Homo sapiens: one gene and its partner. The protein of the gene in region 1 interacts with the protein of each later gene in a pairwise test. Each region holds a gene or a part of one and is shown on either strand. Other genes may lie near its edges.

The links.
Region 2: the proteins of SUSD3 (region 1) and HHATL interact in binary tests that used the Homo sapiens proteins (3 or more experiments, as listed by UniProt).

Annotation. Positions count from the first base shown.
Region 1 is NC_000009.12:93,082,580-93,085,825, forward strand, and holds the end of SUSD3 (sushi domain-containing protein 3), read left to right. Parts: intron 1-1,957; coding exon 1,958-2,168; 3' UTR 2,169-2,554; downstream 2,555-3,246. UniProt on the Homo sapiens protein: May play a role in breast tumorigenesis by promoting estrogen-dependent cell proliferation, cell-cell interactions and migration.
Region 2 is NC_000003.12:42,699,976-42,704,379, reverse strand, and holds the start of HHATL (protein-cysteine N-palmitoyltransferase HHAT-like protein), read left to right. Parts: upstream 1-1,581; 5' UTR 1,582-1,801; exon of another isoform or gene 1,802-1,839; intron 1,840-2,858; exon of another isoform or gene 2,859-2,913; intron 2,914-3,189; exon of another isoform or gene 3,190-3,192; coding exon of another isoform or gene 3,193-3,248; exon of another isoform or gene 3,249-3,268; intron 3,269-3,540; coding exon of another isoform or gene 3,541-3,553; coding exon 3,554-3,659; intron 3,660-4,404.

The DNA of each region.
Region 1 (3,246 bases):
GTGCTGGGATTACAGGCGTGAGCCACCGTGCCTGACCCCCTTTCCTTTTTATTTTAGTTTTGTTGGGGCCATGGTGGCTAATGCCTTTCCTTTTGGGTAGTGAGATATCCAAAGCCACTTTCAGAGCTCCTCCATTGCCCCACCTGTGATCCCCACTCCCCATTACAGCACTGGGACCAGATCATCCTGTGTCATAACTGGGAAAGTGCCCATGGAATGGGGGAAGGAACAATTGCCTCTCAAGGCAACATGGTGTCCAGGATGATGGCAGCCACAGCTGCTGCCGCTGCCGCAGGGGCTTTGCTGGCCAGAGCATGATGCCGAGGGGCTCCCAGGGGTGCTGTTTGGGGCCACACTTCTGCCTGGTCCCAGCGCCACAGACCCTGCCTCTTACACTGCGGGAACTTGTGCAGTGTGTGGTCGGACGTGTGCGTCCCGTCCAAGAGTGGCCACAGATCTGTGTACAGGGCTGTGTTCACCCCCTCTGGGGAGTGAGAGAGCCAGGGCGGGAGGGAGGCACCCTGACAGGGCCGTGAGAGGCTGGAGGAGGCCGGCTTAGGGGCCACTCTGACAGTCAGCTCAAGAGGCAGGAAGTGGTGGTGAGGCTGAGGGGGATTGGGAGGGGGACCCTTAGGGCAGAGCCCCTTCCCGGAGCTCTCTCACACATGGAGACCTCGAGCACTCAGCCCAGCTTCATGGGGACTCAGAGAAGGCGGGTCCTGCCCAGGGCTACAAAGCCGATGGAGGCAGAGTTCCCTGAGTCCCCAGCCCTGGGCCCCGGGCTCCCAGGCAGGATCCTCGGGATATGCCTGTGCTGGGGCTGCCCACCCCTCAGGCAGGGCCCAGGCTGCCTCCATAGGTGGTAAATTGCCTTTAGCAAGGTGAGGTTTGCCTCTTGACCTTGTTTTTATTTCATAAGTACTTCTCAGCACTTGCAATGTGCCAGGCACTGTTCTGAACTCTTCCAAATATTAACTCTTTTCACCTAGGGGTGGGTACTACTTTTATCCCGTTTTCCAGGTGAAGAACTAGGCAGGTTAAGAAACTTGTGTAGACTCCCACACAACCAGTAAGTGAGGCTGGGTGGAGTCAGTCTGGCTCCTGCCTCCCCGAAGCTGCCTTTCGTCTCCACCAGTTATTGATGCTTTCACTTACTCATTGCATAAGCAGATCATTTCTTAATTCCTACTACTTACTAGAGTTTTTCTGAGAATTAGTTGTGGGTGGGAGCCGTGATCCAGGAAGGCTTCCTGGAAGAGGTGATGCCGGAAGTGAAAGGACTAAGAGAGCCTGCTTTGGGAGGGGAGAGAGACAGCCTCTGAGGGGAGGAGAGGACATGCAAAGGGCTGGAGGTGGGAGCCGCCAGGCAGCCCACATGGAGCAGAGGCCAGTGTGTGTGTGGAGGCTGGAGATGGGACAGGGCCAGGGTCTGGTCAGCCTGGGGAATGGCTTGGTTTGTATCTGGGGGAGTAGAGAGCCACAAGAGTACTGAGGGTGGAGCAGGTGGGTGATCCAGCTCCTGGCTACCAAAGAGGCAGGCCTGGCAGGAGGGAAGATGTCCTCCCCTTGACCTCCTGCTCCCCAGCATCCCTTCTCTGCCTGGGACATCCCAGGCCCTGGCCAGACAGCTGGGTTCCTGGTGGTTTCTGCACACTCTGAATGAGCCCCAGGAAGTCCCTTCCCACACCTTAGGGGGGCAAGTGTCTGACTCCTGGGCCACGCCCTGGTTGTGTAGATGAAGGACCCACTTGCCAACAGGGCCCGGCAGGGAGATGGAGTGACCTCTGTGCACCTTAGGGTGCAGGGCAGCTCCCAGCAGGAGGAAACGGGCTCCCCAGTGCTCAGGGCAGCAGTTGCCCCAGGCCCACTGGAGGGCCTGGGTACCTGGGAAGGTATGGAGTTGGGGATTAAACCCTATCCACACTCTTTTGCCAACTCATGCCTCCTCTCTCCACAGAGACCATGGTGAGAGCACCAGCAAGCTGGCCAGTGTGACCCGCAGCGTGGACAAGGACCCTGGGATCCCCAGAGCTCTAAGCCTCAGTGGCTCCTCCAGCTCACCCCAAGCCCAGGTGATGGTGCACATGGCAAACCCCAGACAGCCCCTGCCTGCCTCTGGGCTGGCCACAGGAATGCCACAACAGCCCGCAGCATATGCCCTAGGGTGACCACGCAGTGAGGCTGGTGCCCATGCTCCACACTGGGAGGCCAGGCTGACCCCACCAGCCAGTCAGCTACAACTCCACATCAACTCCACATGCGCCCAGCTCGAGACTGATGAGTGGAATCAGCTTCCAGGTGTAGGGACCCCTTGAGGGGCCGAGCTGACATCCAAGGCTGAGGACCCCAGTGGGGAGTGTTCTGTTCCGGCATATCCTGGCCGTAACGATTTTTATAGTTATGGACTACTTGAAACCACTACTGAGGGTAATTTACTAGCTGTGGCCTCCCACTAACTAGCATTCCTTTAAAGAGACTGGGAAATGTTTTAAGCAAATCTAGTTTTGTATAATAAAATAAGAAAATAGCAATAAACTTCTTTTCAGCAACTACAGAAAACTACCTCAGCATCTTCCTCCACAGGATGTACTGCTTCCAAGCAAGGACCCATGGAGGGTTCTGCATCTGTTGTCTGTAAAAGTGCAGTTGAGGGGTATGAAGTAAAACTAAATAATTATTTCTTTTTTTTTTGAGACAGAGTCTCACTCTGTCGCCCAGGTTGGAGTGCAGTGGTGCAATCTCTGCTCACTGCAAGCTCCGCTTCCAGGTTCAAGCGATTCTCCTGCCTCAGCCTCCTGAGTAGCTGGGACTACAGGTGCCCACCACCACGCCCACCTAATTTTTTGTATTTTTAGTAGAGATGGGGTTTCACCGTGTTAGCCAGGATGTCTCGATCTCCTGACCTTGTGATCCACCTGCTTCGGCCTCCCAAAGTGCAGGGATTACAGGCGTGAGCCACCGTGCCCAGCTAAATAATTATTTCTAATACTGAAAAATACAAAGGTAACAGTGGTTGGTTGATGTTAGAGTCAGCAGAGGAGACTTCCCTTTTTTTGTTTGTTTGTTTGTTTGTTTTCAGAGCTAGTTTCTGTTTAACTCTGAAGAAAAAAATCTGGTATTGGTTAGCAAGGAAGGAGTGTACTGAGGCATGACTGACCTGTCTTAGTCATGGGCAGTTCTCCTTGGCCAAGACAGGTCCATTCAGTCAGTCAGTGGGGCTTAAGATTTTATTTCACAGCCATAGCA
Region 2 (4,404 bases), on another chromosome or scaffold:
AGTAAATTGGCTGAACCTGTGTTCTTAACTCTGGGGTCAAACCACCCTGTCTGCTCCCTTGAGCCATTTTCTTGGAGCCTCGTGAGGGCCCCAGTGTGGGTGCACGGGGTTGTCGCCCCTGCAGGGCAGTCAGTGCCAGGAGCTTACAGGGCTGATCCAACTACTTGGCTTCCTCATGTGCCAGGTCCTTCTTCTCCCAACTGCGTACAGTGGCAACATCTTCCCTATGGGCTGTGGTGACATTAAAAAGTTAATCCATGTACATCCTGGCTACTATGATTAACTTACTCCTAACAACCTTTGACTACCCCTCCCTGAGGAAGCCCTCCTTAACCCTGAAGTCTGGCTCAGGTATCCTTCCCTTCCTGATGCTGGCCTCTCTAGTGCCCATTACCCACCACAGCTCTAACCCAGCACCCACACTGTGCAGTAGTCACCATTCATGCTTCTCAGGGTCGGGGACCACAGACACGGGCCTCTGTGTCCTGTGTGGAGTGTGTAGGTTGGGCGTCTCCTTGCTGTTCTCCAGGCCAGCGTGTCTATGTGCTCGGGAGGCAGCTCCCTGCCTAAGTGCAGTCTCTCCCCTTCCTGGGCCCTGATGGGTGGGGAGCAGCACCTCCCTCCTGCCTCCTCAACTGAGCCTGAAGCTGGGGTCATAGGATCAGCAGGGGCTCCAGGAGCTGTCCTGTGACTGATCACAGCCACAAAGCTCCTTCTACCCCCGAGAGCCTCCCCACAAGCACACAGGTGAACAGGTCCCCCTAGATAGCACAGACACATACAGCTGCCCGAGACTTGGCCTCAACCGAAGGGGCACTGTCAGAGGTTCTTAATCTCAGGGGCACCTTCAGGATGCCCCTCCCCTCAGGTATCCAGGGCTGAGGCCTTGGATGCTCCCTTCCAGAATGAGGGCCCTGTCCTACCAGGACTCCCAGTTGGTTAGGAACACACCTGTCTTCCTGTCTGCCTCCACTCTGCCACCGAGAGGATACCAGCCATTCCAAGTACCCACAAGCCTTGCCAAGTGACCCTGCTAGCACCCCTCCATCCAGGACACTCCCTATGGGACAGGGCTGACTTATGGGGATCCCTCTCAGCCACATGTCCCATGCCAGTTCCAGTCCCATCAGGCAAGTCAGCCCTCCCTCAGGCACTGATGCATGGCCAGCCAGGACTCACGGCATAATGAAAAGGACCAGGTCATGGGGCGAGACAAGTCTGCCCTGGGATAGCCCTTAGGAGGTCATATGTAAAGGTAGGAGCTGGAGTCCCTGGAGCCCAAGCATGAAAGTGTTTGCATGTTGTGACTGTGTGTGTCTGTGGTGGGGGCAGGGCTTACAAGCCTGGAGAGGCTGGTGGGACCACCAGGAGTCTTCCTGGAAGAGGGAAGTCCTGGGTAGCAGTGAGAGAGAGGCACAGGCTCTCTAGGAGCCAGGGGAGGCAGGCTGAAGAGAGGCCCAGGTGTCCCTGTCTGAGCCTATGCTACTGGACACCCTCCCCCCACCCAGCACCCGCCCCCCTTCAAGGATCCTCCCTGCGGCTCCCTGTGGCCAGCAGCTCTGCAGCACTCGGCTCTGCTCCACTCTGCTCAGCTCCGCTCCAGGAAGGCCACCTCCTCCTCCCCCTCCTCCTCCCGCTGTCACCACTCACCGCTCATAACCTCAAGGGGGTGGGGACCCCAGGGCTGGACACACCCCACCGTGGCCCCAGAGCTCAGCCGGTCGCACGGACGGACAGTTGGAAGCCGGACCCCAGAGCCTGAGGTGGGCAGTGTGCCAGGGTCCCTTGCGGCCTCCTCAAGGTCAGTGCCAGCTGGGGATGCAGCTACTCTGGGGCTCTTGAGACTTGTGGGGCACACCCCAGGCCCTCATCCCAAATCACAGGCCCCAAAAGGGGCTTTACCCCCGGGGCATCTGGGGCAGGCAGGACCAGGGGAAAGGGTATGCCCCCGTGTCCACAGGCCAGCCCTGGTCTGGGGGTCTATCAGGAGAGGCCCCAGGCTGGGGGCCAGCTCCTTGCAGAGGCCTCACTGGGGACACCCCGCACCGGCCATGGGGAGCTAAAATTGGAAAGTGGCGAGTGGGAGGCAGCTGACAAAGCTATTTCACGGGCTCTTCACCATGCTCCGGTTTCAAGCTCCTGCTCCATTAACCTGATCCCCAGGGCCTCTCCACCCCCACCCAACTGATGAGGAGGTGCCTCCACCCTCAGGCCGACAGCACAGCCATCAGGCTGGCAGCCTCTGCTGTGGGCAGGGGCAGTGGTGGTCTTCTCTTACCCCAGATTCCAGAGGGGGGTCACTGAGAAACCCAATCCTGAAGGGAGGCAGGCAGAAGTCTGTCCCAGGTCTGCCATGTGACCTTGACAGGTCCCTGCCCCTATCTGGCCCATGACCCCTCCATCTGTACGAGGAGACCGTCGGCTGCTGGGGGGCCCAGGGGAGATGGCTACAGGGCTGGGGATGAAGATTTAGGGGAGGATCAAGGGTGGGCAAAAGGGCCACATCAGCCACCTCTTGGCCCCGTCAGCCCAAGAGTTGCCTGGACATGTTCCCTGCTTCCTCCCTTTAATTTGGGTCCTATGTCTGTATCCATGGAGTCCTTGGGAAGCCCCTGAGCCAGGCTGAAGCGGGATAGGAAGGGTAAAGGTGCTAGCTGAGCCGTAGTACGGCCCAGCAGTTCTCCAGGGGACAAGCTAGGCCCCCGCTGGAGGGAGTGGTGAGACTCAGCCGGGGCCTGATTCTGGTCAGCACCTTGGACAGCAGCCAGTGCCCTCCCTGGCCCCGCCTGGCCCCGCCTGGCCCCACATCCGCTACTCCTGGGCACCTCCTCAAATAGCACAGCCTCCAGCTGGTGCCCAGGGCCTGAATACACAGAGCGCTGAGAGAGTGGGGCAGTGTGGTCACGGACACAGGCAGGGACTGGGATGTGACAGGCTGGAGCTCAGGGACTTGTTGGGGGAATGGGGGTCAGTGACAGGCTGGAGGCTTAATGCGAGGATGGAGGCTTGGCTCTAGGGGCAGCACCTGGGGTGGTCATGGGATCTCAGGGAGGGGAGTGGGAGTCAGAGAAAGGGTCTTAGAGAAGCTGGGGCTTTGTGAGGAGCTAAGGGAGACTCACTGATCGAGGTGGGGACCCTGCAGGCAGAAACCTGACTGTAGTGATAGAGGTGGGGTTTCTCCGCACGCAGGTCATGGGGGCCTTGGCAGGAGCGGTTTTGGCAGAGGGTGGGGCCGGTGCCTCTGGAAGGTATGAAGATGTAAATGAAGGTGAGGGAGGCAGGCTGCGAGTGAGGGCTCTGCGGGCAAGAGCCTTGATGGGTGGGGTGGGGGCAAGAGCAGCAGCTGGGATGGGGCACTGGTGTTCGGTGGCCTGTGAACTGTGGGGGGCACAGGGGCAGGCAGAGTGATGGTACAAGGTCCCCAAGGGGCTGGAGGGGCAATCTCTCTTCAGAGTGGGTCCCCACTGGGGTGGTGGGACCATGAGGTGGGGCTAGGCTTGGCTGGAGACTGTAATTCCCTCACCCAACCTGTCTCCCCAGCCCTGTCCAGGCTATGGGCATCAAGACAGCATTGCCGGCGGCTGAGCTGGGCCTCTACTCTCTGGTGCTGAGTGGGGCCCTGGCCTATGCTGGCCGGGGCCTCCTTGAGGCTTCACAAGGTAATGGCTGTGCCCCGGGGCAGGTGGACAGGACCCTTCTTCCCCTGGAGGCCTCAGGGTTCCAACCAGCAAAGCCAGAAAGTTACAGGCTCCAGACCTAGGGTACTCCTTCTAGAACACGGCTGGATCTCCCTTTTCAGCCCGGGGTTCCCATCTCAGATAGTCACTGGAGGCTGGGTGGAGCCAGGTTCAGTCACAGGAACACAGAGATGCAGAGACACTGACAGAGAGATGGACACAGAGTCACACACATAGACACACACACACACACACACAGAGGCCTGGACCCAGACACACACACACAGAGACCTAGACCCAGACATACACACACACACATCCCGACACACACACACACACACAGAGACCTAGACCCAGACACACACACAAACACACAGACATATACACACACCCCCCAACACACACACACACACATACACACACAGAGACCTGGACCCAGACACACACACACAGAGAGAGACCTGGATGCAGACACACACACAAACACACAGACATATACACACACACCCCAACACACACACACACACACACACACACAGAGTCCTGGACCCAGACACACACACACAGAGACCTAGACCCAGACATACACACACACACATCCCGACACACACACACACACACAGAGACCTGGACCCCGACACACACACAAACACACAGACATATACACACACACCCCAACACACACACACACACACAGAGTCCTGGACCCAGACACACAGCGAGACCC